7 linked regions of the Homo sapiens genome follow. The protein of the gene in region 6 interacts with the protein of the main gene of each other region in a pairwise test. Each region holds a gene or a part of one and is shown on either strand. Other genes may lie near its edges. The genes, in order: PRR20E, PTPN12, MTMR9, PPM1F, PTPN20, ROR2 and STYX.

Region 1 (4,142 bases), on a different chromosome or scaffold from region 6:
GGAAGCCAAGGACACTGCCGTCAAATTACTGATTCCTGGTTTAGCGGTTCCAGTGAGTCATGCACTCTCCTTGCTTCCGTTAACCGCCCCCCCCCCCACCCCAACACCTTTTGTCTGATTCGTCACATGTCCTTTGATCCCCTTTTTCCTCAATCTGTTTGAAATTTTACCTTCTATTCCAATTCATTTAGTGGTTCCCAAAGGGTACCCACGTTGAGACTTAAAAATGTGTCAGTCTAGATTTTTATTGCTCTTATATTCAGCCAGTCTATCGTCTCCAGGCACTAGAGAAGCACTTTAGTAACTTCTAGCTCCTTCTGAGTTTTCGCATGTCCCACATGTCTATATGAGTGTCTTCTGGAATTTTAATTCTAGGTCATCAATCCTTTTTCCAGAATCGTACTTCTCTGGACTTAAGAATACAGTTTCCTAATTTCCATGCTTAGTGATCCTTGTTGCATCCCACTTCTTCCAGGTTGTCTGGGTTGGCTTCTTCTTGGCTGAAAAACGTGACGTGTACTTTCACTGTACATGACAGTTCCATTCCAATCGCCTTGTACAGAAAGGGTGTTTGGCAGCTTGCATGTTGTAAGTTGCGTACTCCAAGTTCAGGGGAAGCTCAGGCTTCAGGTCCAGTCGGGGGAGGAGTGGAGCAGAAGTGGGGCTGGGGGGAACGTCCAGGTGGAAGGAAGGGAGGCTGGGAACAACGTGGGTGGCAGATAGTGGTCAATACGCAATGTCGGTGAGGAACACTGGGACCCCTTGCACGTAGGTGCCCTGGGGGGTTTGAATGACTTGTAAAACCGCTGAGTCACCCAGAGCCCTAAACCCGATGCAGGGATAGAGGGTCAAGACGGGTTGCCAGTCAACAGCCTGAGGCCCAGGAGCAGCGGGCGGCTCCTGAAACCCCAGCTCAGGTTGCGCCACGTCGGGGCCAGGGCCTTCCTGCACAGTTCCAGGCGGAGGACCTGTTTCAGAAAGGGAGAAGGCTGCGGTCTCCGTGATTTCCGGTTCCCCCTGGTGGCCTGGCTCTCCATGGTGGTCCAGTTGGATGTGCACGTCCGGTGCCATCAAGCCTTCTGCCCCCTGTCTCTGGCCAGCGTCCCCGCGGGGCCCAGCCCTTCTGCCACGGCCTCGCCCTGGCCGCCGGCTTCCTCCCCGGCGCCGGCCTCTCTCTGCAGGAGGGGGTGACTCTGGGCGAGCTGGGGGCTGCCGTCTGAAGGGTTTCACGTAAGCGATGGGTTTTGCGGGTTGGGCTGGCTGTGCGGGCCCATCTGCTTCCACGGAGCCTTCAGGGTCCGCAACACAGCAGCCTGGCTCTGGAGGAGGCCCACCTGAGGCTAAAAGAGAAGCGGAGCGTGAGCAGAGAGAGACAGAAGGAACTTCACCCGTCAAGCAGTTATAGGATACTTTTACAAATAAATACTCAGAGAAAAGAGGGATTTCTGAAGTTAAAATTGTGAGAGAAGAAACAAAACTCTCCACGGAAGTTGGAGAAAGAAGTTGAGAAGGTCTCCCACAGAACAAAGCAAAAACCTAAAATGATGGAAAGAAGGATGAAATATAAGAGAATTAGAGGTATGCTGTGGCTGAGACATTTCACCAGAAAATTTCAGAGTGCTGAGGAAAAAGAGAAGATTCTAACAGATTCTAGAGAGCGGGAGACAGAGAAAGGAAAAGTCACATGGAAAGGGCTAGGATTCCACATGTCTCAAAAGTCAGACATCTCAAAAGCAGCAGTTCAGTCTAGAACATAACAGAAAATGTCTTCGAAATTTCAAGGGAAATGAATTTCCCACCTAAAATTTCCTGTCCAACCGAAGTTTCGCTGAAGAATCTGGGAGGGGAGAATGAAGATGTTTCAGACAAGCAAGATGTTAAAGAATTTCCTTTCAGTGGATGCTTTATTGTTATGCATCTGTCAAACTAGACAAGATTAAAAGATTTAGGACACTCAGCGTATGAAGGGAAAAGTTTTGGAGAACAACGTGGCAACAGCCGGAAAATTCCAACTCCTCCGGGAAAGAACAAGGTGGAAGTACCGGTTTATCATAGATCAAGACGTAGCGTGAGGACTCGCTCTGCTACGGAGAAACAGTAATACAAAACTAAACAGAAGGAAACAGCGACAACAACAGCAAATCTCAGATTTGGGAAATGGGATTACGGTTCGGAAGAGGGAAAGGAATTTCCCAGATGATGTGGAACCCGGGAGCTGACTTCCAACAAGCAGCCCAGGTTGAGGCAGGCTAGGAGAAGGTGAAACAGAGAATGCTTGATTGAGTTTGAGTGTCAACCATTGGGGAAGAATTGGGGAACAGACGAAATTAAAAAGAGAGGAGTGGCAGGCGTTTGATGTACCTTGATTAGGGGCCATGGAGCGAAGTCGCTTCGAAGGCCTTGGTTCCTCCATGAGCAATCGGCGGGAGGGGCTGGGGAGAAAAACAAGAGAGCAAGAACGGATTTAGGAAGACAGAGGTGACAAGGCAGGGGGATGGCCGTGGCCTTTCTAGGGGAATGAGGATTCTGTCCCCAACTGCACCCACCCGAGATCCGTCCACGCCTCCGGGACCCCCAGACACACACCTGATCTTCCCACAGCTGGCTCCGGAGATCTGAAAATTAGGAGACTCTTCGACGAAGAGAGGCCCGAGGAGTCGGAGGTGTCCACAGGTTCACCGCTGTAGCTCTGAGGTAGTCCACCCGCAGCCAGGGAGTCTGGAGGGAGCACGCAGCAGGTTCTGGCTCCGAGCCCAGCAGAAAGCCGACTGCTGGAGGCCGAGCGCCGTCCCTCTTATATGGCAGCAAGGCAGTCGCGTAAGGGACAGGCGTCGTCAGAGGGGGGCCGGCTGGGGCGGGCCTGGCTGGGCTTGCGAGGCGCATTGGGCCAGTCCCCTGCCAGTCAAATGGGGGCCCTTCTGAGATGCCGCCATTTCTAGACGTCCGTGGTTGATTGATTAATCTAATCATCGAGGAAAAAAAATTGCATAATGACCTCTGAGTGTCAGCACAATGAGGTGTGGTGCCCTGAAAGCGGCTGACAGGAAGATGCGATTAGCTTAGATCTGAGCATGGTCAAGGAAAGCATCCAAAGCGGGGATATCTGGGCTGAAATCTGGAACATAACGTTTGAAATTAGTCATCCTGAACCGGGTTGGGAGAGGCAGGGAGGGAGGAAGGGGAGTGAAGAGAGTGTGCTGAGGCCCGGACTGGAAGGGAGCCCGGCACATTCTGGGAATGGACGGGAGGCCAAGTCCAGGCCCGGAGGTGGTGCGAGGTGGAGGCAGGGTCCGCGCAGGAGCTGGTCTTGTTCCAAGGCAGCGGAAAACCGTGGAACGGTGTCCGGCAGCGGGTTAACATTTCAGAAACGACCAGCCTGGCTGTGAAGGAGCGCCAACCCAGGGTCCGCAGAATAAGTCAGGAGAGGCAAGAAGGCTATTGCAGCCCTCGGGGTTGGGCGCAGGGTGCTGTTAGACTGAGACTCAGGGAGGTAGAGGAGGAGAAAGTTCCCTGGTGGGAGAGAAATTTCCAAGAGAAAGCGAGACCCAGTGTGGACAGCCCTTGAGGAAGAGACTGCGGCCTTGGTAGCCCGCCGGTTCATTCAGGCAGAGGTGGACCGAGAACCTGCTCTGAACGGGAAGTTGCGGAGCTTGGCTTGCGCACATCTGGTTGAAGGGGCTTTTGAACTGCCAAGTGAGGATGTCAAGTGGCCTTTTGTAAAAAGAGTCGAGCTCAGCGCGATGGCGACGGGGCTGGAGATGCGTGTGAGACCCACACCGCTGGCTTTTATTGCTGTGGGTGCACTCACGGGTGGAGGAAGACAGCGGGAAACACAGCAGGACGCTGGAGGGGATCCCACAGTGGGTTATTTGGTTGGTTTGCATCCTTGTGTCTTTTACAGAGACGGGTTCTCGCTCTGTAGCCCAGGCTGGAGTGCAGCGGTGCCATCTCGGCTCGCTGCGGCTACTTGGGGGGGGGGGGGGGGGGGGGCTGAGATAGGAGAATCAGTTCAAGTGATTCTCCTGTCTCGGCCTCCGGAGTAGCTGGACTACAGGTGAGCGCCACCACATCGGGATAATTTTCGGATTTTTTTGGAGAGACGAGGTTTCGCTATGTGCCCAGGCTTGTTTGGAAGGCCTGAG
Region 2 (3,500 bases), on a different chromosome or scaffold from region 6:
AACTTGAACAGATATAGGAATATCTTATGAGAGTATTGCTGTCATTTTAATATGATCAGTATTCTGGAGATATTCATTTATCTTCTCATGTCCTAGGAATGTGGGAATGTGTCTAGAGAATCTGAACTTCACAGAGTCTTTATTTATTTATTTTATTTATTTTGAGACAGAGTCTTGCTCTGTCACCTAGGCTGGAGTGCAGTGGCGTGATCTCAGCTCACTGCAACCTCTGCCTCCCGAATTCAAGTGATTCTCCTGACTCAGCTTCCTGAGTAGCTGGGATTACAGGCGCACGCTACCATGCCTGACTAGGGTTTTGTGTTTTTAGTAGAGACGGGGTTTTGCCATGTTGGTTAGGCTGGTCTCAAACTCCTGATCTTGTGATCCGCCTGCCTTGGCCTCCCAAAGTGCTAGGATTACAGGCGTGAGCCACCATGCCTGGCCCACAGAGTCTCTTTTAAGGGGAAACCTGGTGTACCATGTGATTACTGCCAGTTATCTGGTTGGATAAAAAAAGGTTGATCACCTGGGGGGAGAAAAAAAAGCAAAAACTCTGAGGTGGGGTCCAGTGGCTCACCCCTGTAATCCCAGCACTTTGCGGGGGCCGAGGCAGGCAAATCACTTGAGGCCAGGAGTTGGAGACCAGCCTGGCCAACATGGCAAAACCCCATCTCTACTAAAAATACAAAAATTAGCCAGGTGTGGTGGCATGTGCCTGTAGTCCCAGCTACTCAGGAGGTTGAAGCACAAGAATTGCTGGAACCCAGGAGGTAGAGGTTCCAATGAGCCAAGATGGTGCCACTGCACTCCAGCCTGGGTGACAGAACAAGACTCTATCTCAAAAGAAAAACAGAACACAAAAACTTAAATATACAAGCCCTCAAGAAGTTTGCTTCATATAAAGTTCTTAAAAAGCAACAAAGCCTGGGCAACATAGTAAACCCTATCTTCTTCTTTGGTTTTTTTTTTTTTTTGAGACAGGATCTCATTCTTTCACCCAGGCTGGAGTGCAGTGGCATGATCAGAGCTCCCTGCAGCCTTGACCTCCCCAGGCTCAGGTGATCCTCCTACCTCAGCCTTCCTAGTAGCTGGGACTACAAGCATGCATTGCCACATCCAGTTAATTTTTTTGTATTTGTTAAAGACACAGGGTTTTGCCATATTGCCCAGGCTGCTCGCTCTCTCTCTCTCTCTCTCTCTCTCTCTCTCTCTCTCTCTCTCTCTCTCTCACTCTCACTCTCACTCGCGCTCTCTCTCTCGCTCTCTCTCTCTTTTTTTTTTTTTTTTTTTTTTTGGAGACAGTCTTGCTCTGTCGCCCAGACTGGAGTGCAGTGGCGTGATCTCAACTCACTGCCATCTCCACCTCCTGGGCTCAAGCAATTCTCCTGCCTCAGCCTCCCAAGTATCTGGGACTGCAGGTGTGTGCCACCACACCTGGCAAATTTTTGTATTATTAGTAGAGATGGGGTTTTACTGTGTTGCTCAGGCTGGTCTCAAACTCCTGAGCTCAATTGATCCACCCACCTTGGCCTCCCAAAGTGCTGGGATTACAGGCGTGAGCCACCATGCCTGGCCCCTATTTCTTTAAGGAAAAAAATAAAGGCAACTAGAGGGTATAACCCACCCGAACAAAGGAGTATACCCAGAAAGAGGAAAATGAGACCTGGGAAACAGGAGAATCTGAAACCAGAGAGAACATTAGCTCTGTGATGGACTAGGGAACCAGTAGTCCACACTGGAGCAGGAGGCCAAAAGTTACTAACAAGGATGTCTGTGGTATTGATACTTACTATGTGTGCTTGTCATTATTGAGAGGAGGTATACCAATCTGCAAGAAAGTTAGAAGAAAAGCTGAGTAACTGATGATGCATAGAGAGCTAAGCCATCAGAAATCCAAGGCAGTCATTAGGGGAAAACAAGACACTATAGAAGAAAAGATACGAAATCATGGTGTCATAGATGGGAATACTATCTGCAGTCATACGACTGAGGTAATGAAAAATTACAATATAACAGTATTGGAAAGATAGAGAAGGACACTTCCACAGTAGGAAGTCAGTAGAAAATGTGTGAAACAAAGATCAAGAAATAACTTTTGAAATAGTCTGAAATACAGAGGTGTAAATTTTAGAAGCAGCTATAAAAAAATGTTGAAAGTTGATGCCTCTGGCTAACAGGAGGGCTGCGGGGCAGAGACTATGTTTTTCATTCAAAGTCTTGTATTTGACTTTTTAAACAGTATATGTGTATTACCTTGATGAACATTAAATTTTCTTAGTCTGAAAAACTGCAGTTTTTATTCGCAACCAGATTGTAATGGCTCTTAATATGCTACTCTTAGCTACATAATTCTCAGGTATCAACTTGTTTAACAGTCTTAAAATGCCCTTTTTAAATGTTTGTTTTTCAGTTGCCTTGTTGAAGGGGATGCTAAAGAAGAAATACTGCAGCCACCGGAACCTCATCCAGTGCCACCCATCTTGACACCTTCTCCCCCTTCAGCTTTTCCAACAGTCACTACTGTGTGGCAGGACAATGATAGATACCATCCAAAGCCAGTGTTGCATATGGTTTCATCAGAACAACATTCAGCAGACCTCAACAGAAACTATAGTAAATCAACAGAACTTCCAGGGAAAAATGAATCAACAATTGAACAGATAGATAAAAAATTGGAACGAAATTTAAGTTTTGAGATTAAGAAGGTCCCTCTCCAAGAGGGACCAAAAAGTTTTGATGGGAACACACTTTTGAATAGGGGACATGCAATTAAAATTAAATCTGCTTCACCTTGTATAGCTGATAAAATCTCTAAGCCACAGGAATTAAGTTCAGATCTAAATGTCGGTGATACTTCCCAGAATTCTTGTGTGGACTGCAGTGTAACACAATCAAACAAAGTTTCAGTTACTCCACCAGAAGAATCCCAGAATTCAGACACACCTCCAAGGCCAGACCGCTTGCCTCTTGATGAGAAAGGACATGTAACGTGGTCATTTCATGGACCTGAAAATGCCATACCCATACCTGATTTATCTGAAGGCAATTCCTCAGATATCAACTATCAAACTAGGAAAACTGTGAGTTTAACACCAAGTCCTACAACACAAGTTGAAACACCTGATCTTGTGGATCATGATAACACTTCACCACTCTTCAGAACACCCCTCAGTTTTACTAATCCACTTCACTCTGATGACTCAGACTCAGATGAAAGAAACTCTGATGGTGCTGTGACCCAGAATAAAACTAATATTTCAACAGCAAGTGCCACAGTTTCTGCTGCCACTAGTACTGAAAGCATTTCTACTAGGAAAGTATTGCCAATGTCCATTGCTAGACATAATATAGCAGGAACAACACATTCAGGTGCTGAAAAAGGTAATAATATAGTGTCAAATACTTAAATGTCTTTCCTATGTGCTAGTCACTGTTTTAAGCACTTTAGCTGTATTGATTTATTATGTTTTATTCCACACTCTACCATAGAACCTACAGCA
Region 3 (3,500 bases), on a different chromosome or scaffold from region 6:
ACCTTTTTGTTTCTGAGAAGCCTATAATATAAACATAAAAATTATACACTTTTTGACATTTATGTCCTATTTATTTTTCTAGTTTCTTTAAGAAAGGGCTTGTTGTGCAGAAACAACCAGGATAGCTTACAAATATGAATGTCTGGAAAGACCCCCAGGGTCTTCATTATTTACATTGTTTGATAACCACTTTCTAATTGTTTTTTTTTTTAATTTTTTATTTTAATTTTTCCATAAGTTATTGGGGAACAGGTGGTATTTGGTTACATGAGTAAGTTCTGTAGTGGCGATTTGTGAGATTCTGGTGCACCCATCATCCGAGCAGTATACAATGAACCCTAATTGTAGTCTTTTATCCCTCGTCCCCCTTCTGTCCCTCCCCCAAGTCCCCAAAGTCCACTGTATCCTTCTTACGCCCATACTAATATTAAAAGTGGAGGTTGAGTCAAATCTCAAACAAAACTTAAAATTTTTTAGAGACTTAGCTTTTAGGGAAAATAACTTACATGTACATAAAATACAGATTGTCAAAGATGAAAAATCAATGTGAATCTTGACATAAATACATATTTAATCTATATCCACATACAATGAACAGGCTTCATAATAATTCTAAAACTCTGGAACACTCTTTATCATGTGAATAAACTGTTAGAGAAGGATAACAGTCGATCGGCATGTTTTAGAAAAAAATACATTTTAACACAGATTGAAAGACAGTCTGTGGTAAACCTTACATCAACCAAAAAGATAATACATTCAATTCTCATAAGACTCAGTTTAAGCTGAGATTTTATTATAAAATCAGTTTTGTCTCTGAAACCACATGATTATTTATGAGCTACGTGCAACTTACTGCATTCTTTTTGAGCTAGCAATAAAAATAATCCACATAATCATAGAGCCTATGTGGCATTGGACTTTAACTGCTGGGATAGCATGTCCCACGCTATGTTCCCAGGAACCAGGGATGACAAGGACAGGACATTATTGCATCCACTGCCTCCAGCCCTGTGCCCCCTGCCCATGGCCGGCCAACCACTGAACTTGCTCTGGCTGAGCCTGACACCACTTCAGAATCCTTCCCATCAGCATTGCTGGCAGCCTCTACCAACTGGGAAACAGAATGGGAATCTATTTTGATCCCTTCTTGAAAGCTAGTCCTGAGGATATTAACAGGTATAACACCAAAAAAAATTCATCATCAAACACATTTCTTAAATGCTGAATTAAACTTATATACATTGCTTTACTGAAGAGTGTCTTAAAGCCTTTAATGATTATGCGTTAATCATTAAATCCTCCCTTCTAAGTGGGGGAGTTAATCCTCCCCTCTAAGTGGGGAGGATATTATGTCATATTCACCAAACTTCCTTGGCTATAGAAATTGCCAATCCCTCCTGTCCCTCCCTGCCAGAGTACAGTCCAGGGCTAAGCAACACATGCTTCAGAAAATGGTGGCTGCCAGCAATGAGGCAAGGAAGGCTGCTGATTGTACCCTGAAGAGATTACCAGGCAACCTCCCTGAAAGATCATTCTGATGTGAATCTTGTAAATGAACCTATACACTTGATGGTGCCTGGGCTGTAAGGTGAGCTTGCCACTCTGGGCCTGAGGACAGTTTCTAGGTGTAACAAAGTCTGGAGCAGGAGGAGGAAGACCTGTAATTTAGGCCAGGGATCCCCAAACCCCAGGCCATGGACCAGTAAGGGTCCGTGGCCTGTTAGGAACTGGCCACACAGCAGGAGGTGAGTGGCAGATGAGCGCGTATTTCCACCTCCTGTCAGATCAGCATCAGATTCTCAGAGAAGCGCAAACCCTACTGTGAGCTGCGCATGTGGGGAATCTAGGGTGCGCCTTTATGAGAATTCTCCTTATGAGAATCTAATGCCTGATGATCTGACATGGAACAGTTTCACCCCAAAACCATCACCAATCCCGCTGCCACCCAATCCAAAGAAAAGTTGTTATCCACAAAACTGGTCCCTGGTGCCAAAATGGTTGGGGATCGCTGCTCTAGGCCACACTTTTGATGACCAACTGACTCTATGTCCTGGGAAAAGTCACGTAACTTCTCTGGATCTTACTTTCTTAATAAAATTAGAGGGAAGACCTGAATTATAAATTAAGGCTTTTTCCACATGTAAGATACTATGATCCTATGTTAAGAAATTAACATTTAAAATGGTTGCCCCTTAATTCACGTATGGACTAATTTTAACCTAACAGAACAAAGTCTAGGACATGCTCTCATAAAAGAATATACTTCAGGTCATTTAAATTATAATTAACTGTAGCCTCTACCTTTTTATAAATAATTTTAATATAGATCCAAATCGTCGTCTCCTAGGAGATTCTGGCTACTTAGGAAGTAGCCAAAACAACGGAAAAGGAAAGGTCCCCATGTGAGCAGTGTACTCACCTTTCACTTTCATTGTTGCCCAGAAATGTTCCAAACTGTGAGGCATAAGCATGCTCAAAGAGCATGATGAGGAAATTCTCATTAAACTCAAAAGAACAGGGAAACTGACGAAGGATCTGCCACACGCAGTCCAAGAAGAGAAGAAATACAGGAGCCTCCCACTTCTGCTTGGTGTTACAGTAGGCTGACTGTGCACAGCGCTGCTGGAATGGGTGACCAGCCTAGGGGGAAGATGGAGGCGTGACAGTCATATCCTGGTGAGATCACATGACAGAGCATTCTACCGACACCACTATACACAATTACAGTGACACTCCTAGTACCTGGAACATCATATAATTAGGGTAGCTGTTGTACAGATTAATGATTTCTTGGTATAAAATAAATAGCGGCAGCAACTAAGGAAAAAGACACACTTCCAAATCCTTAATGAGGCTGCGCGGCTAAGGTGTGACCACAGGAACTGCACTGCCCTTGGAATATCCCATGGAAGAATAATGAACTTAAGCAATAATAAACTTACAAAATAAACCTTTCTAGGTCTACAAAACCTGGAGCAAAGTCAAAGAACATAAGCTCTCAGTACAAAGAAGAATCATCACCTCTGTCTAACACTGTAGATTGTGCTGTACACTAAACAAGCCTCACCCTAAGTGGAGACAGATATGGAACTCTGATCACCTTTATAATGTCAGCTCTGATAGTAAATCTCTAATTATATACGAAAAGTTATTGTGTTGAAAGATCTTTATGAGTACTTTTCTACAGGAGATAAAGCTGTCATTAATTACCCTCTTCTCCCAAAATGAACAGCAAGAGTCTGCCATCTACTGACCAAAGTAAATTTAAGACTCATTTGACTGTCTTGTTCAGAACCCAAATGCTGACCTTAATACAAATCATACTCTGCTAGGAATTTCACAGATCTGCTTTGTCTCTGGGTCCTTCTACTACTGTATGTGACAAAGGTAATGACATAGAAATTTTACAGTGGTTCACAGAATTGTGATATCCATTAAAATAACATAAAAATCAGTCAGTCATACTCATTTGTTTGTCTACTATGCATCATGAGGAA
Region 4 (3,500 bases), on a different chromosome or scaffold from region 6:
CACTTCTTGACAATGTCCACCCAGCTGCTGCTCCTGGCACCATCTCCTGAGACCGGATCTCTGGATGCCCACAAGTCCCCACCTGGACTCATGTCAAAACAGTGGCCAGGGTTGTCCCTCCACCCTCTAGTGGCCCTGAACCATGAGGCCATGCACCTGCCACATGGTGCTTGCAGGTGGGCACCTGCATTGCTGGTGCCATGGCCCCCTGATTCTGCTGACTCTGACATTTCTCCCCAGGGTGAAGCCTGGAGACCCTCTTGCCCTGGCCTAGCTGCAGGCCCCCGGGATGCTTTGGGCATGTCCTCTGGAGCCCCACAGAAGAGCAGCCCAATGGCCAGTGGAGCTGAGGAGACCCCAGGCTTCCTGGACACGCTCCTGCAAGACTTCCCAGCCCTGCTGAACCCAGAGGACCCTCTGCCATGGAAGGCCCCAGGGACGGTGCTCAGCCAGGAGGAGGTGGAGGGCGAGCTGGCTGAGCTGGCCATGGGCTTTCTGGGCAGCAGGTAGGCCTGTGCACCCCCAAAGGGGACGGGGAGTAAGGGCACGGCACCAGGGCCGACAAGGGATGTGGCTGCTGCTCCCCTACACGTCCAGCCCCACACGGGGATCTGCAGCCCCGGATCCCTATGCAGCACCATGTGGAACTCCCGTGGCTGCTATGGCAAAGCACCACACACTGGGCACTCAACACAGCCAAAGCTCATTCTTTCACAGGGCTGGAGGCCAGAGTCCAAGATCAAGGTGGCAGCTGCGCCATGCTCTCTCAAAGGCTGCAGGGAAGAGTCTGCCTTTCTGTTAGTGCCTGGCCTTGACTTCCTGGAGGTCCTTGGCTTGTAGACTCATTCCTCCTAGCTGGCCTTGTTGCACACGGCATCTCCCCATGTGTGTGTCTGTGCCTTCACACCTCCCCACCCTGCCTGCTGTGTGTCTGTGACTCCTCCTCTTGTAAGGACATGGGCATTTTGGACCAGGGGCTGCCCTCCTACAGTGTGATCTCATCTTTCTTTTTGTGGAGAATGGGGTCTCGCTATGCTGCCCAGGCTGGTCTCGAATTTCTGGGCTCCATGGATCCTCATGTTTTTGCCTCCCTAAATGCTGGGATTACAGGCATGAGCCACTCCAGCCAATGTGACCTCATGTGAACATAACTAATTACATTTGCAAAGACTTTAACTCCAAATAAGATCATATTCTGAGCCACAGGGGGCTGGGGCTTCAACATACCTTTTAGGGAACACAATTTATTGCATAGCAGCTGATAAGCAGTACGTCCTGTTTCCGATCCGTGTGATGGACGAGGAGGCAGAGGTGGGTAGATGAAGAGGCTGGCCTGAGGCCTTACAGTCAAGGAGTGGCAGAGCCACATGGCACCCCAGCCACCACGATCTGAGAGATAGCTGGCACTGTCCCCCTTCCACAGGTGAGGAAGCTGAGGCACAGAGAGGTAGCACAACTAGCCGAGCAGATTTCGGGGAAGATAGAGAGTTGGGTGTCCACCGGCAGACAGTGTGTAGCTGTCGCCTAGGCTGAACTCAGAGGTCCTTTCCTTGGAAGACCCTTGCCCTCCCCTTCATTTATTCATTCATTCTGGAAGCATTTGTCCCATGAAAGATGGTGAAGGACAAGGTCTTTTCTCGAACCCTCTCTGCTCAGACAGGGTCTTGGAGTTAGGCTGTCTGTCTGGCACAGGGGACAGCTCATGGAGGTGAGCAGGCTGGTGGGCCGCGTGCTGTTTCTGTGAACCTAGTCCCTTGCTGAGGGGATGTGCGCATGGTCCCCAGTCCCAGCATCACCCAAATCACCTGAAATATCACCTGAAGCCATGACAGGCCCTCAGCCATAGCTCCCTCTGACAGAGCCACCATCCTCGGTGGCTGCCTCAGTATCCCCCAAGTGTGCACTTCCTTTGCCCCTTGCAGCGAATCAACTCTGTTCCTGACACCCACCAAGGGCCTATTTTCCTTGACCCCAGGCCCTAGCAGAGTCAGTGACTTGTGCTCTCCCTGTGCAACATGGGCACAAACATTGCTAAGTGTCAGCCACATGCAAGGGCTATGCCACCCAGCATCCCCCACAGCTGCCTAGAGCTCAGGAGGAAATGTCCGGTGACCACGCTCCATGAGGTCATGGCATGCGCAAAGGGTGTTATTGGCTTGTTTTGAGGAAATATTTTAGATATGTGGCACAAAGTGAATCAGCCCCCAGTGGTGGAGCAGAGTGGGCCCAGCAGGGGTGCCAATGCACGGGAGGTGAGGAAAGGCCTCACGTTCTGCCTTCTTGAGAGGAGCAGGTGGCACTCTGCAGGGAGCAGGGGAGTCCAGACCAGGGAGTTCTGCAGCCACTGGGTCTTCGTGGAGGTGGCATGGGGCCATTGCTGCCTTGAGGCAAAAAGCCAGGCCCGGGACAGAAGGGTTGGTGCACTTTGGCCCAAGCATGAGGTGACCGGGCAAAGCCAAGCGGTGCCAGCCCCAAGCTGGGGATCAGATGGAAAAGCCATCCCGGGGAACAACAGAGCCCAGGGGTTTGCTGGGCCTGCGTGGGGCACAGGTGCTGAAGACGGACAGGCCGCAGCACCGGGGTGACAACATCAGCCTTCAGTTCCTGGGCAGGGGGAGAAGGGCGCAGAGCAGGGTCCCAGGGAAGGATCCAAGGTGGGAGGGCCTGGAGGGCTGAGGAGTGAGTAGGCAGTGCAGGTGACCTGCCCAGGAGGGCCCCGAACCAAAGTGTTGGGGTCAGTGCTGGGGGCGCAGGGGAGGGCAGTGGGTTTTGGTTTTGATGCGAGAGCAGCCAGACTTGTTGAGCGGCTGCTGTGTGAGCCACCTAGTGATGGGTGCGAGCAGGAGGGGTGCAGAGCTCCCGAGTCTCCTCAGCCCCCAGGAACCCACCTTACATGGTGAACTAAAATGGAGTATTTGAAGTTGTTATATGTTCCAGCCATCTTATTGGATTTATTTTTTAAGTTATTTTTGTTCTTTTCTAGCATCTTCTTTCACACGCAGGTGTGGATGTGCATAGGTGTAGTCAGCACTTGGGGTCTGAGCCTCACACGTTGTCTACACTAAGCCTGGCTGTCCACACACACGCACTCACATGTGCCCATACACAGTCACGAGTTCCACCTCCGAGCTCTGCTTCCCGTGTCCCAGCCTGAGGAGGGGCTCTTGGGCATGAAGGGCTTTGAGCATCTTGGTCCCTGAGCTCTTTCACAGACCGTAAAAGGCATCCTTCTGGAGGCCATCCAGGAGTCAGAACATCCAGTCCACAGGGGGCTATTTACGCCTTGTCTCCGCTCTTGTTTGGAGCCTCCTGTCACATATTTGAGTCCCTGAGCAGTGCATACCGTACACTAATGATTTGAGTGTGGTTTTTGTCTCTGCCACTAGACTATAAGCCTCTTGTAACAGCCCCTGCCCCAAGGTCGGTGAGACGTGTTTCTCAGGCACCTGGGCCTTGCATACACCTTGGCTTGTCCCTGGAGCATCTTCTTGCCTTGTGTA
Region 5 (3,500 bases), on a different chromosome or scaffold from region 6:
GAATTATCAAATGCTACCATTACTGGCCCATTTCTCTGAAGAAGCCATTGGAATTGAAACACTTCCGTGTATTCCTGGAGAACTACCAGATACTTCAATATTTCATCATTCGAATGTTTCAAGTTGTGGAGAAGTCCGTAAGTTTTTAAACATCAGTATTAGATATATGTTTCACCACATAAGCAGATGTCTTAGAACTAGAAGTTAGGAGTAGGATGGAAAATCGATCGATGATACTTCTTAAGTAACTTTTTACTTGTCCCTGGTACCAGAAGCCACCACCACTTCTACTTCTCCTCAACCAGATTCTGTGGAGAAGAAAAAATTGGAAAAGAGAGGTGGGGCAGGGAGAGTGACTGTTGAAGTTGTCTGATTCTGGGTTATACCTGCCTCTGCCAAATGTAGCAGATACGTATTGAGTCCTTAAAGTATGCTAATCACTGGGCCAGGCACTATCAGTACTTACCGAATAGTGGAGAGGTTGGTTACACTCACTGATAGATACCTAACTTACCGTGTTCAGTGATAATGTTGAGATATGTCTTGGGCACTTTGGGGCTCAGAAGGTAAACACTTGGCTTTACTTGGGGTTTTGAGACAGGTTTACTGGAGGAGGTGGCATTTGTTTTGAGAATTATGCAAATGAAAAAGATGGAGGGAGAAAGTAGATGATCAAAATATAAAATAGCATAAGGTGTGTGTAGAGACAAATATAAGTAGTTAAGTGTTTCTGAAATGTAAAAGTTCAGTGCCAGGGAGTAATAAAAGATGAGATGAGGTTCTCAAAAGTAAGCAGGGGCCAGCTAGAATGTGAAATGTCTTAAATTTCAGCTAAGTAGCATGAACTTTATTATGAAGATAATTGGGAGACATTGAAGAATTTTAGTAAGTGACATGATCAACTACGGCTGTTGGCATGGGGGTGGAAAGCACAGACGCAAGTGTTTTGCAGATAAAATTGGGAGACATATGTGACTTATGACTTATGATTTATAAGTGACAGAGGAGGGGTTGAAAATATATTCAATACAGTAACCACATGTGGATATTTAAGTTTAAATTTAAGTTATTTAAATTTATGTAAAATAACAAATTGAGTTCCTCACCTGCAAGTAGCCACATTTTAGGGCTTATGAGTGGCATGTTGATAGTGGCTACTATATTGCCACTATTTAAGACATTTGCTTCAGTATAGGAAGTTCTGTTGAGAAGCATTGGTCTAGAATAATTCATGGATTCCTTGGTCTAATAGACTTAGAAAACAGAAAAGGAATGGTTTATAGGAGAAAGCAATGAGTTAGATTGCTCTAGTGGATTCAGTTGGCAGGTAGGTGATACATGTGTTAACACGAGTGAAGGGAATAGGAGTTGAACAGGAAACTTGCAGAGAATGGTGAGTTTTGGAGTCATCACCAAAGAAGTTGATTGGAGCACAATCACCAGGAAAAGGGTTGCTGAGTGATGCTGAGGTTTGACCCATACATTTGTAGTAGCAACAAAATATGTGATTATGTGTATTTTTCTAGCAGTATAACATTGAGATCCCTGAATACAGGTTATGGGACTGATCCAGAGAGAGAGATTAATTTTAAGGAGTTGGTTCAAGTGATTGTGGAGGGTTGGCAAATCTGCAGGGTGGGAAAGTAGGCTGAAGACCCAGGGAAGAATTGGAGTTTGAGTCCAAAAGCAATCTGCTGGTAGAATTCCTTCTTGCTCATGGGAGGTCAGTTTTTGTTCTCTTAAGGCCTTCAGCTGATTAGATGAAGCCAACCCACTTTATGGAGAATAACCTGCTTTACTCAAATTCTACCAATTTAAATGTTAATCTCACCTAAAAAATACCTTCACAGAGGCACAAAATAATATTTGGCCTAGTATCTGGATACCAGGGCTCAGCCAAGTTGACACATAAAATTAACTATCACAAATTTCAGTCGACACTGTGGATTAGAATAGAGCTCTGAGCACTAGCATCTTTATTCAGAAAGCTTAGGAAAAAGAGGTGCATTCGGGAGAAGCATAGGAGAAGTGAGAAACTCATTTTGAGTTCTTCCATTAGGGTCCCATGTGTGATAAAATAAGGGCCCCACACTGAGGAAAGGGTCATGATCCCTTTGGATGAGATATAGGTAAATTCAAAGTGCTTTATCTGACAATGCTGGGAAGAGTTTCATGACTCCACTTCAAGGGGGCTCAGCACAATAGTGGGACCCACAATCTACTCTCATGGTCATTGACTACCCTGTCTTCATCGCTGGAAGAGATCGGTGCCTCTCTTGTCAGACACCTATATGTCTTAATTAAATTTCATATGTCATTTCTAAACTAAGATACTTTGCCTTTTGGTCTTATTCCTAACATGACAGTCCATCTCTCACTCTAAGCATTTTGAAATCTTGGTTTTCCTGTAGCCTCATGGTACAGAAGAATGATGGTAGATTAGAATTCAAGACACCTACATTACAGTTCCAGCTCTAAACGTGTGAACCTTCTGACCTAGCATACATCTCTCGTCCCCCTCATCCTTAAATTTTCATCTGTAAAATGGAGATAAAATGGTGCCTATCTCACATGGTTGATGTGAAGATTAAAGGAGAGAATTCATGTGAAGCCCCTAGCATAGTAACTGCCACATAGCAAGTGCTTAATTTTTGTTACCTGTTAATACTGGTATTTTTATTGTTGTTACTGTGCTCTCCTTTGTAAAATGGAGAAAACCTCTATTCCTAGCAACTTCCAGAATTCTTATAAACATCAAAAAGAGGTTTGAGTACTTTTTGAAAGTTCTATATAATACCAAGGTAATACCATATAGCCATTATTATTATCATTTGAATATTAGAAGTTGGCGTGAGGTCTCTAATATAAGAAATCAATAAATGTCTTTCTCGCTCTGTTTCTTTCTCTAACAGACGGGAACTAGTCACTCTGTAAAACAGTTGCAGTTCACCAAGTGGCCAGACCATGGCACTCCTGCCTCAGCAGATAGCTTCATAAAATATATTCGTTATGCAAGGAAGAGCCACCTTACAGGACCCATGGTTGTTCACTGCAGTGCCGGCATAGGCCGGACAGGGGTGTTCCTATGTGTGGATGTCGTGTTCTGTGCCATCGTAAAGAACTGTTCAGTAAGTGTGTGAATCAAGCAGATACACTGATGCTGTTGGTGTTTACACACTACATTTAATAGCCTGATCATTTGGAAGACTAATATTTGGTCTTCAAAAGCAACTTAGTAAATCAAAAGCACATGAGCTTTGGATACCTGATTCTCACCGAACTTGCTGCAGGTTCCTGGGGGTGTTTGTGAGGATTAAAGTATGTATTGTAAATAATGGCTTAGGACAGTGTCTGGAACATAATAGATACACAGAAAATGTGAGTTCCATTTCCTTTTCCTTCCCTGTATCTTACACGGGGTGTTTAGACTCTTACTAGAGAATGTTGATGGAATGTGCCTGTTTTTAATGAATATAAGTGACAAGCACATAAGAATGTGA
Region 6 (3,500 bases):
TACACAGATGGGGGAAAAGAAACCGTAATGTTGGACTCAGTGCTTTGACGGTGTATCCTCAGCCTACAGGAGAAACAACAACCTGAAAGCAAAACTGGCACCCTTCTTAGTAGGTTTGATTTTCATAGTGGTGTGGGTATATCCATTCTGAAATGACTTTGTGTGAATTGTGAGATTAGACAGATAAGAAGTGTGTTAATAGTGTTGTAGCCAGGGTGCTCACTGAGGAAGGAGGGAGATATAAGGATGGAATAGGGGAAGGCAAGGAAGAATCTGGAGGGGTTGAATTGGAATTGGAGGTATCAGTGTAACTCATGCTTTCATTTATATATATATTTGGTATATATTATGTTAAATTATGCACCGTAATTTGTAAAACATACTCTACACATAACAGTTATTTCTTAGCACCTCATTAGCAGTGAGCTTTCTTAGTGCCCAGATGTTGGTTTCTCAATACTGTTGCATCTTAAAGGAGCTAGAGAACCTTGGAGAAATGACTGAATATGGGATGGGGACAGGGAAAAATACACAATAAGCCTGAAACGTGTTCTTGTGTTAGAACGCAAGTGAGTGGTGAAAAGTGGTGGGGGCATGGCAGATGTACTCAGGGGCCAACTTGAAGGAGTTGCAGCCAAGTCTGGGACCATTTAGGCATCAGAATAAATAAAGACAAGCATGGATTATACAAGGAACAAAATAGGCATCCAGGACTCACCATTGATAATAAGTACATAACTATATGTATGAGTTTCTTAGGCCTGCTGTAGCAAAATGCCATAAACGGGGTGACCTAAAAACCAGAAATGTATTCTCCCACAGTTTTAGAGGCTAGAAGTCCAAAATCAAGGTGGCGGCAGGGCCACGATCCCTCCCAGGGCTCTAGGGGAGAAAACTTTTTTGCCTCTTTTAGTTCCTGGTGGCTCATGGTGCCCTTGGTTTGGAGCTATATCACTTTGACTTCTATCGCCATTTTCACATGACCTTTTATTGTAAGGACACCAGTGATTGGATTTAGGGACCACTGTAAATACAGGATGATTTAATCTCATGTTCCTTATTACTACTGGAAAGACTATTTCCAAATAAGGTCACTTTCTGAGCTTCTGGGTGGATAGGGAAACACTAATTTACTACAAAACCTAAGTGGGAGGGGTGGGGAAGAGAGGGCACTTCCTAGAGCAAAGTGCCAACTGATAAATGGGAGGCGAGTTGGGAATAATCACATTTTACAGCAATAACTGTACGGATTGATTTGGGCAGGCGTCATGAATGAGTGCTAAACTCATTAAAGAAGACATGTTTGATGAGGAGCAGGAAATGTCTGTGGTCTCAAAGGATTTCCCCACAGATTCCTTGTTGGCAAGGGACAGTTGCTAACTGTAGACTGGCGAGATTTGCATCCCAATACCTGGGTGGTCCAGGTTAATGCCACAGATTTGGGCAGATGGATGCCGTCCTTCCCAAGAGCATACATCATTTAGGTTGCTTTCTATCTGGGGAAGAGAGTCTGATTATGAGCAAAAATCAGCAAACGAAATGGAGGGACATTCTATGAAACAATGGTCTGTAGCAAAAATTGTCGAGGACATGAGCGATGAAACAGGGCAGGCCAGGTCCAGCTTGAAGAAGACCACAGGGGCCTGGTGTGGTGGCTCACGCCTGTAATCCTAGCACTTTGGGAGGCTGAGGCCAGCGGATCACAAGGTCAGGAATTCAAGACCAGCCTGGCCAACATGGTGAAACCTCGTCCTCACTAAAAATACAAAAGTTAGCCGGGCGTGGTGACATGTGCCTGTAATTCCAGCTACTAGGGAGGCTGAAGCAGGAGAATCACTTGAACCCGGGAGGTGGAGGCTGCAGTGAGCCGAGATCGTGCCACTACACTCCAGTCTGGGCAGCAGAGCAACACCCTGTCTCAAAAATGAAAGAGAAGAGAAGAGAAGAGAAAGGAGGGCAGGGCGGGGCTGGGCGGGGTGGGGAGACAGTACAATACAGTACACCACAGGGTAGGTAGAGAAGACAGTACAATACAATACACCACAGGGACAAGGCAGTCCAGTGCATGTGCTGGCCCTGACCCTGTGCTGGAGGGAAAAACATGCTGTCGTGGATACTAACGGAACCACTGAGGAAATTGGAAGGTGAGCGTAAGTTATTTAAACGTGTTGTCAGACTTGTCTTTCCTGAGTTTGTTAATTGTGCAGAGGTGGTGTAAGAGGATGTCTGTACTCATAGGACATACACGCTGCCATGTTAAAGGATAAAGGGGCTTGATGTCTCCAGCCTACTATTGTCATCTCAGACCATGATAAAGCCCATGGGGCAAGAGTGACACATTAGTGAACCTGGGCAAAGAGTAGAGGGAAGTTTCATGCACCATTCTTGTAACTTCTCTGTAAAGGCGAAATGGTTTCAAAGTAAAGAATTAAGGCCGGGCACGGTGGCTCACGCCTGTAATCCCAGCACTTCTGGAGGCTGAGGCGGGGGGATCACGAGGTCAGCAGATCGAGACCATCTTGGCTAACACGGTGAAACCCCGTCTCTACTAAAAATACAAAAAATTAGCTGGGCACGGTGGTGGGCGCCTGTAGTCCCAGCTACTTGGGAGGCTGAGGCAGGAGAATGGTGTGAACCCAGGAGGCGGAGCTTGCAGTGAGCCGAGATAGCGCCATGGCAGTCTGGCCTGGGTGAAAGAGCGAGACTCCATCTCAAAAAAAAAAAAAAAAAAAAGAATTAAAAATGTTAAATTCTAACAATGGATGGCTGAAGCCAGTGCAATGAACAATGGAGTTTAGCACATGCTGTTAAAAGAAAGACTCAAGGCCCGGCGAGGTGGTGGCTCACGCCTGTAATCCCAGCACTTTGGGAGGCTGAGGAAGGTGAATCACCTGAGGTCAGGGGTTCAAGACCAGCCTGTCCAAAATGGTGAAACCCCATCTCTACTAAAAATACAAAAATTAGCCGGGGGTGGGGGCTGGGTGCCTGTAATCCCAACTACTCGGGAGGCCGAGACAGAGACAGGAGGATCACTTGGACCCAGGAGGCAGAGGTCACAGTGAGCGGAGATCGAGCCACTGCACTCTAGCCTGGGTGACAGAGCAAGACTCTGTCTCAAGAAAAAAAAAAAAAAAGAATTGCACGTTATGATTTTATTGGAAATGGTGTCACAGGGACTGAGGATGGATGCGATCCAGGTGCTTTTGAGGCCAGACAGCATTTCATTGAAGGGACTGAAAATCTCTGTCTTTGTCTAGTTTCTGGATTGCCCCAAGTTTTCTGATTTTTCTTTCTTAAGATTTTTATTATAGAAATTCCAACACACATAAAATTAGACGACTGCAGTGAACCGCTGTATATTTTTCACTCAGCTTCAACAGTTGCCACGTTCATTTCGTTTCATTTCCCCCGGCCTACTTAACAGTCCCCAGACAGCCTTAATTGTTTACCTGAAAATACTTCAGCATGAATGGTAAGAACTGTTTTTTTCACACCATCTC
Region 7 (3,500 bases), on a different chromosome or scaffold from region 6:
GCGTGAGCCACTGCGCCCGGCCTGAATTTTTTATAATTATGAAAGAAATACTTTTTTTTTTTTCAAAGATAGGATCTTTCTCTGCTGCCCAGCCTGGATTGCATTGGCATGATTTCTGTTCATTGTAGCCTTGACCTCCCAGGCTCAAGCAATCTTCCTGCCTCAGCCTTCCAAGTAGCTGGGACTACAGGTGCACCACCGGATCGGGCTAATTTTTTTTTTTTTTTTCTAGAGATGGGGTTTTGCTGTGTTGCCCAGGCTGTTCTTGAACTCCTGAGCTTAAGCGATCTACCCACCTCAGCCTCCCAAAGTGCTGGGGTTACAGGCATGAGCCACCACACCTGGCCATGAAACACTTATTCTTTATAAGTACTTCGGAAGGTATAGAATGACACCAAGAAAAATATTTAAATCATCTACAGTTCCACAATTCAGAGAAAACACTTTTGTTAACATTTGGAATATTTCCTTTTAAATCGTTCTCTGTTGTGTATGTGTATTTACGTATATATGCATAGAATTATTAAAGAAAATGAGAATGTTGTATTTTAAAATATCAAACTATATAAGGTGAAACTAATCTTAAGAAAAAACAAAAAAGCCAAAAAATCATACTATTCATTTCTAATGTGTACAGACTTTTTGTTTTAAATTATAATGTTGTTTGTGCAGGTTCTTTATCCTAATGGAAGAACCATTTCTCCTTAAACTTTTACAATACTAGCTTCTTAGAGATTGATAGTTCTACTAGCAGTGCTTGACACTGAAAATGTTATGCGTTAAAATATTTAATTTCATTCTGAGTTAACATTTTTCCCCTGAAGCATTATTTTATGTAACTGGAATACCCAGTCACTTCAGGATACAGTCATTGTCGAAATCCTTGTAGGTTAAATATTGGATTTTCCTCAGATCCTGAGGTTCAGCTTCTGTGTTTTTTTTTGTTTGTTTTTTTGTTTTTTTTTTTTTGTTTTTGAAACAGAGTCTTGCTGTTTCACCCAGGCTGGAGTGCAGTGGCACAATTTTGGCCCACTGCAACCTCTGCCTCCCGGGTTTAAGTGATTCTCCTGCCTCAGCCTCCTGAGTAGCTGGGATTACAGGTGTGCACCACCATGCCTGGCTAATTTTTATATTTTTAGTAGAGATGGGGTTTCACCATGTTGGCCAGGATGGTCTTGAACTCCTGACCTCAGGCAATCCACCTGCCTCGGCTTCCCCAAGTGCTGGGATTACAAGCATGAGCCACCATGCTCAGCCTCAGCTTCTCTGTATTAAAGTCCTGAATTCTTTGAAGTTGTTACCACCTAAATGATCATTGAAAAACTGTATTTTTTAGTGCAAAATTGTTCTTAAAACTAATTTAATAACTTAGCTAATTGCCTATAGTTGTGTTAATAAACAGTGGTCTTAGAAACGCTTAGAAATGGAAGTTTTTTACAAAAATAAGCTAACATATTTAAAATGCCTTTTAAGTATTTTGTAAAGTGTAAAATTCAGTACAGGTGCTCTCTCAGCTAGTTTTTTTTTTTTTTTTTTTTCCCCTTTACTAAAGATGAGTTCAAACAGTGAATGTTTGACTCCTGGTTCCATAGACCATACCTTCCGTTTTTATTTGTTCGTTCTCTTAGACTTTGGACTTCCTCTGAAATGTCCTCTGTAGGTTCATGAGCAGGAGTCACAGGACCACTTAGAGAACAATCTTCTGGTCTTAGAGAAATTGGTAGAAATAAAAGAATAACATAACGATTACAGGTACTTTTGTCTTTATTTCTAGGTCCACTCTAATCTAGAGGAATGTATCTTCCTGCTTGTGATTTTTCTATTTTAACCAGATGGTTCATTATATGCAAATAAAATATGTATTTATTTTTGAGATAAGAATCTTGCTCTGTTACCCAGGCTGGAGTGCAGTGGCCCAATCACAGCTTACTATATCCTTGACTTCCAGGCTCACACAGTTCTACCTCAGCCCCCTTAGTAGCTGGGACTATAAGTGCACACCACGACACCCAGCTAATTTTTTAATATTCTGTAGAGATGGAGTCTCCCTCTGTTGCTCAGGCTGGTCTCGAATCCCTGGGCTCAAGTGATCCTCCCACCTTGGCCTCCCAAAAGAGTTTCTTTTTGCTGGGATTATAGGCATGAGCCATTGTGCCCAGCCTGATGGATTTTTTAAATACTTAAATATCAGAGATGTTAACATGGTGTTTCAGGTTTTAATGCCTTCAAGCAATGTAAAATCTACCACACAGTTCTTGGGAATATGATACTTTGAAAGTTGTTTTGCATTCTTGCCATGGTTAACAAGAAATAATGAGTTATTTTTTTAAAGTACCTTAAGTGTTTTACTTAAAGTGTGCTTATCACAAAATACTCTATTTTCAGATATTTAGTCCTGGATATTGCAGATAATCCAGTTGAAAATATAATACGTTTTTTCCCTATGGTAGGTACCAGTATTTTTTAAATATCATTTAAAATTTATTTATGATTTGACTTCTTAGTTGTGCTTTTTTTTTTTTTTTTTTTTTTTTTTTTGAGACAAGAGTTTTACTCTTGTTGCCCAGGCTGGAGTGCAATGGCGCAATCTTGGCTCACCACAACCTCTGCTTCCCGGGTTCAAGTGATTTTTCTGCCTCAGCCTCCCAAGTGGCTGGGATTACAGGCATGAGCCGCCATGCCCAGCTAATTTTGTATTTTTAGTAGAGACGGGGTTTCTCCATGTTGATCAGGCTGGTCTCAAATTCTCGACCTCAGGTGATCTGCCTGCCTCAGCCTCCCAAAGTGCTGGCATTACAGGCGTGAGCCACCGTGCCCAGCCCCTTTAATTGTGCTTGTAAAGCTTGCTACTTTTACTTTGCTATGACTGAAAATTATGTGATTGTGTTTTTAAAAGAATTATTTGTAGAAAATTTTTTATGATCTCCAGAAATTTGAGGAATCATATTGTGAATGTATTGGACTTAAATTAAATTTTGGCTTCTTTAATTTTTTTGGACTTGTAATAGTTCTATTTATAGCATTTTGGAAATTGGTGAATCAAAATAATTTTTATACATATAAATTAGGAAATTGTTTTCAATAGGTTTCATTTTGTTTCATTATATGCATTTATTTTATGCTTACATTAATCCACATGTCTTTTGCCTCCAGACTAAGGAATTTATTGATGGGAGCTTACAAATGGGAGGTAAATAACATTTCCTTTCCTTAACTAATGTTTATATTTTGATTATTTGTTAATTTTTTAGTTGGTATTTGTCTTAAATGCAGGATATGGAAGTTACAATTATATGTAGTAGCTTACTCCCAAATTTGTATTTTCCCAATTACTTGTTTCATTTGGATAGGCTTTCTGGAGTATCCCTGTAGACTGTTTTCAAATTCTCTGTGAGCTTTCAGTTTCTTTAATAAGAGTCTGCTATATTCTCTACACAGTTGATAATAACAAATTGTAAAGATTTGAAGATATCCAAGTGATTATAGTATATAAGGAGTTA

What was found.
Region 1: the proteins of ROR2 (region 6) and PRR20E interact in a two-hybrid assay, tested with the Homo sapiens proteins (one large-scale study listed by BioGRID).
Region 2: the proteins of ROR2 (region 6) and PTPN12 interact in a two-hybrid assay, tested with the Homo sapiens proteins (one study listed by BioGRID and IntAct).
Region 3: the proteins of ROR2 (region 6) and MTMR9 interact in a two-hybrid assay, tested with the Homo sapiens proteins (one study listed by BioGRID and IntAct).
Region 4: the proteins of ROR2 (region 6) and PPM1F interact in a two-hybrid assay, tested with the Homo sapiens proteins (one study listed by BioGRID and IntAct).
Region 5: the proteins of ROR2 (region 6) and PTPN20 interact in a two-hybrid assay, tested with the Homo sapiens proteins (one study listed by BioGRID).
Region 7: the proteins of ROR2 (region 6) and STYX interact in a two-hybrid assay, tested with the Homo sapiens proteins (one study listed by BioGRID and IntAct).

The regions. Positions count from the first base shown.
Region 1 is NC_000013.11:57,165,855-57,169,996, reverse strand, and holds the start of PRR20E (proline-rich protein 20E), read right to left. Parts: upstream 2,801-4,142; 5' UTR 2,587-2,800; intron 2,433-2,586; 5' UTR 2,414-2,432; coding exon 2,362-2,413; intron 1,341-2,361; coding exon 727-1,340; 3' UTR 1-726.
Region 2 is NC_000007.14:77,624,295-77,627,794, forward strand, and holds part of PTPN12 (tyrosine-protein phosphatase non-receptor type 12), read left to right. Parts: intron 1-2,410; coding exon 2,411-3,381; intron 3,382-3,500. UniProt on the Homo sapiens protein: Dephosphorylates a range of proteins, and thereby regulates cellular signaling cascades. Dephosphorylates cellular tyrosine kinases, such as ERBB2 and PTK2B/PYK2, and thereby regulates signaling via ERBB2 and PTK2B/PYK2.
Region 3 is NC_000008.11:11,315,816-11,319,315, reverse strand, and holds part of MTMR9 (myotubularin-related protein 9), read right to left. Parts: intron 3,458-3,500; exon of another isoform or gene 2,644-3,457; coding exon 2,423-2,643; exon of another isoform or gene 1-2,422. UniProt on the Homo sapiens protein: Acts as an adapter for myotubularin-related phosphatases. Increases lipid phosphatase MTMR6 catalytic activity, specifically towards phosphatidylinositol 3,5-bisphosphate and MTMR6 binding affinity for phosphorylated phosphatidylinositols.
Region 4 is NC_000022.11:21,942,849-21,946,348, reverse strand, and holds part of PPM1F (protein phosphatase 1F), read left to right. Parts: intron 1-240; 5' UTR 241-300; coding exon 301-506; intron 507-2,914; exon of another isoform or gene 2,915-3,500. UniProt on the Homo sapiens protein: Dephosphorylates and concomitantly deactivates CaM-kinase II activated upon autophosphorylation, and CaM-kinases IV and I activated upon phosphorylation by CaM-kinase kinase. Promotes apoptosis.
Region 5 is NC_000010.11:46,984,428-46,987,927, forward strand, and holds part of PTPN20 (tyrosine-protein phosphatase non-receptor type 20), read left to right. Parts: coding exon 1-137; intron 138-2,912; coding exon 2,913-3,128; intron 3,129-3,500. UniProt on the Homo sapiens protein: Tyrosine-protein phosphatase targeted to sites of actin polymerization in response of varied extracellular stimuli. Has tyrosine phosphatase activity towards various tyrosyl phosphorylated substrates.
Region 6 is NC_000009.12:91,940,229-91,943,728, reverse strand, and holds part of ROR2 (tyrosine-protein kinase transmembrane receptor ROR2 isoform 1 precursor), read left to right. Parts: intron 1-3,500. UniProt on the Homo sapiens protein: Tyrosine-protein kinase receptor which may be involved in the early formation of the chondrocytes. It seems to be required for cartilage and growth plate development. Phosphorylates YWHAB, leading to induction of osteogenesis and bone formation.
Region 7 is NC_000014.9:52,754,166-52,757,665, forward strand, and holds part of STYX (serine/threonine/tyrosine-interacting protein), read left to right. Parts: intron 1-2,385; coding exon 2,386-2,446; intron 2,447-3,153; coding exon 3,154-3,190; intron 3,191-3,500. UniProt on the Homo sapiens protein: Catalytically inactive phosphatase. Acts as a nuclear anchor for MAPK1/MAPK3 (ERK1/ERK2). Modulates cell-fate decisions and cell migration by spatiotemporal regulation of MAPK1/MAPK3 (ERK1/ERK2).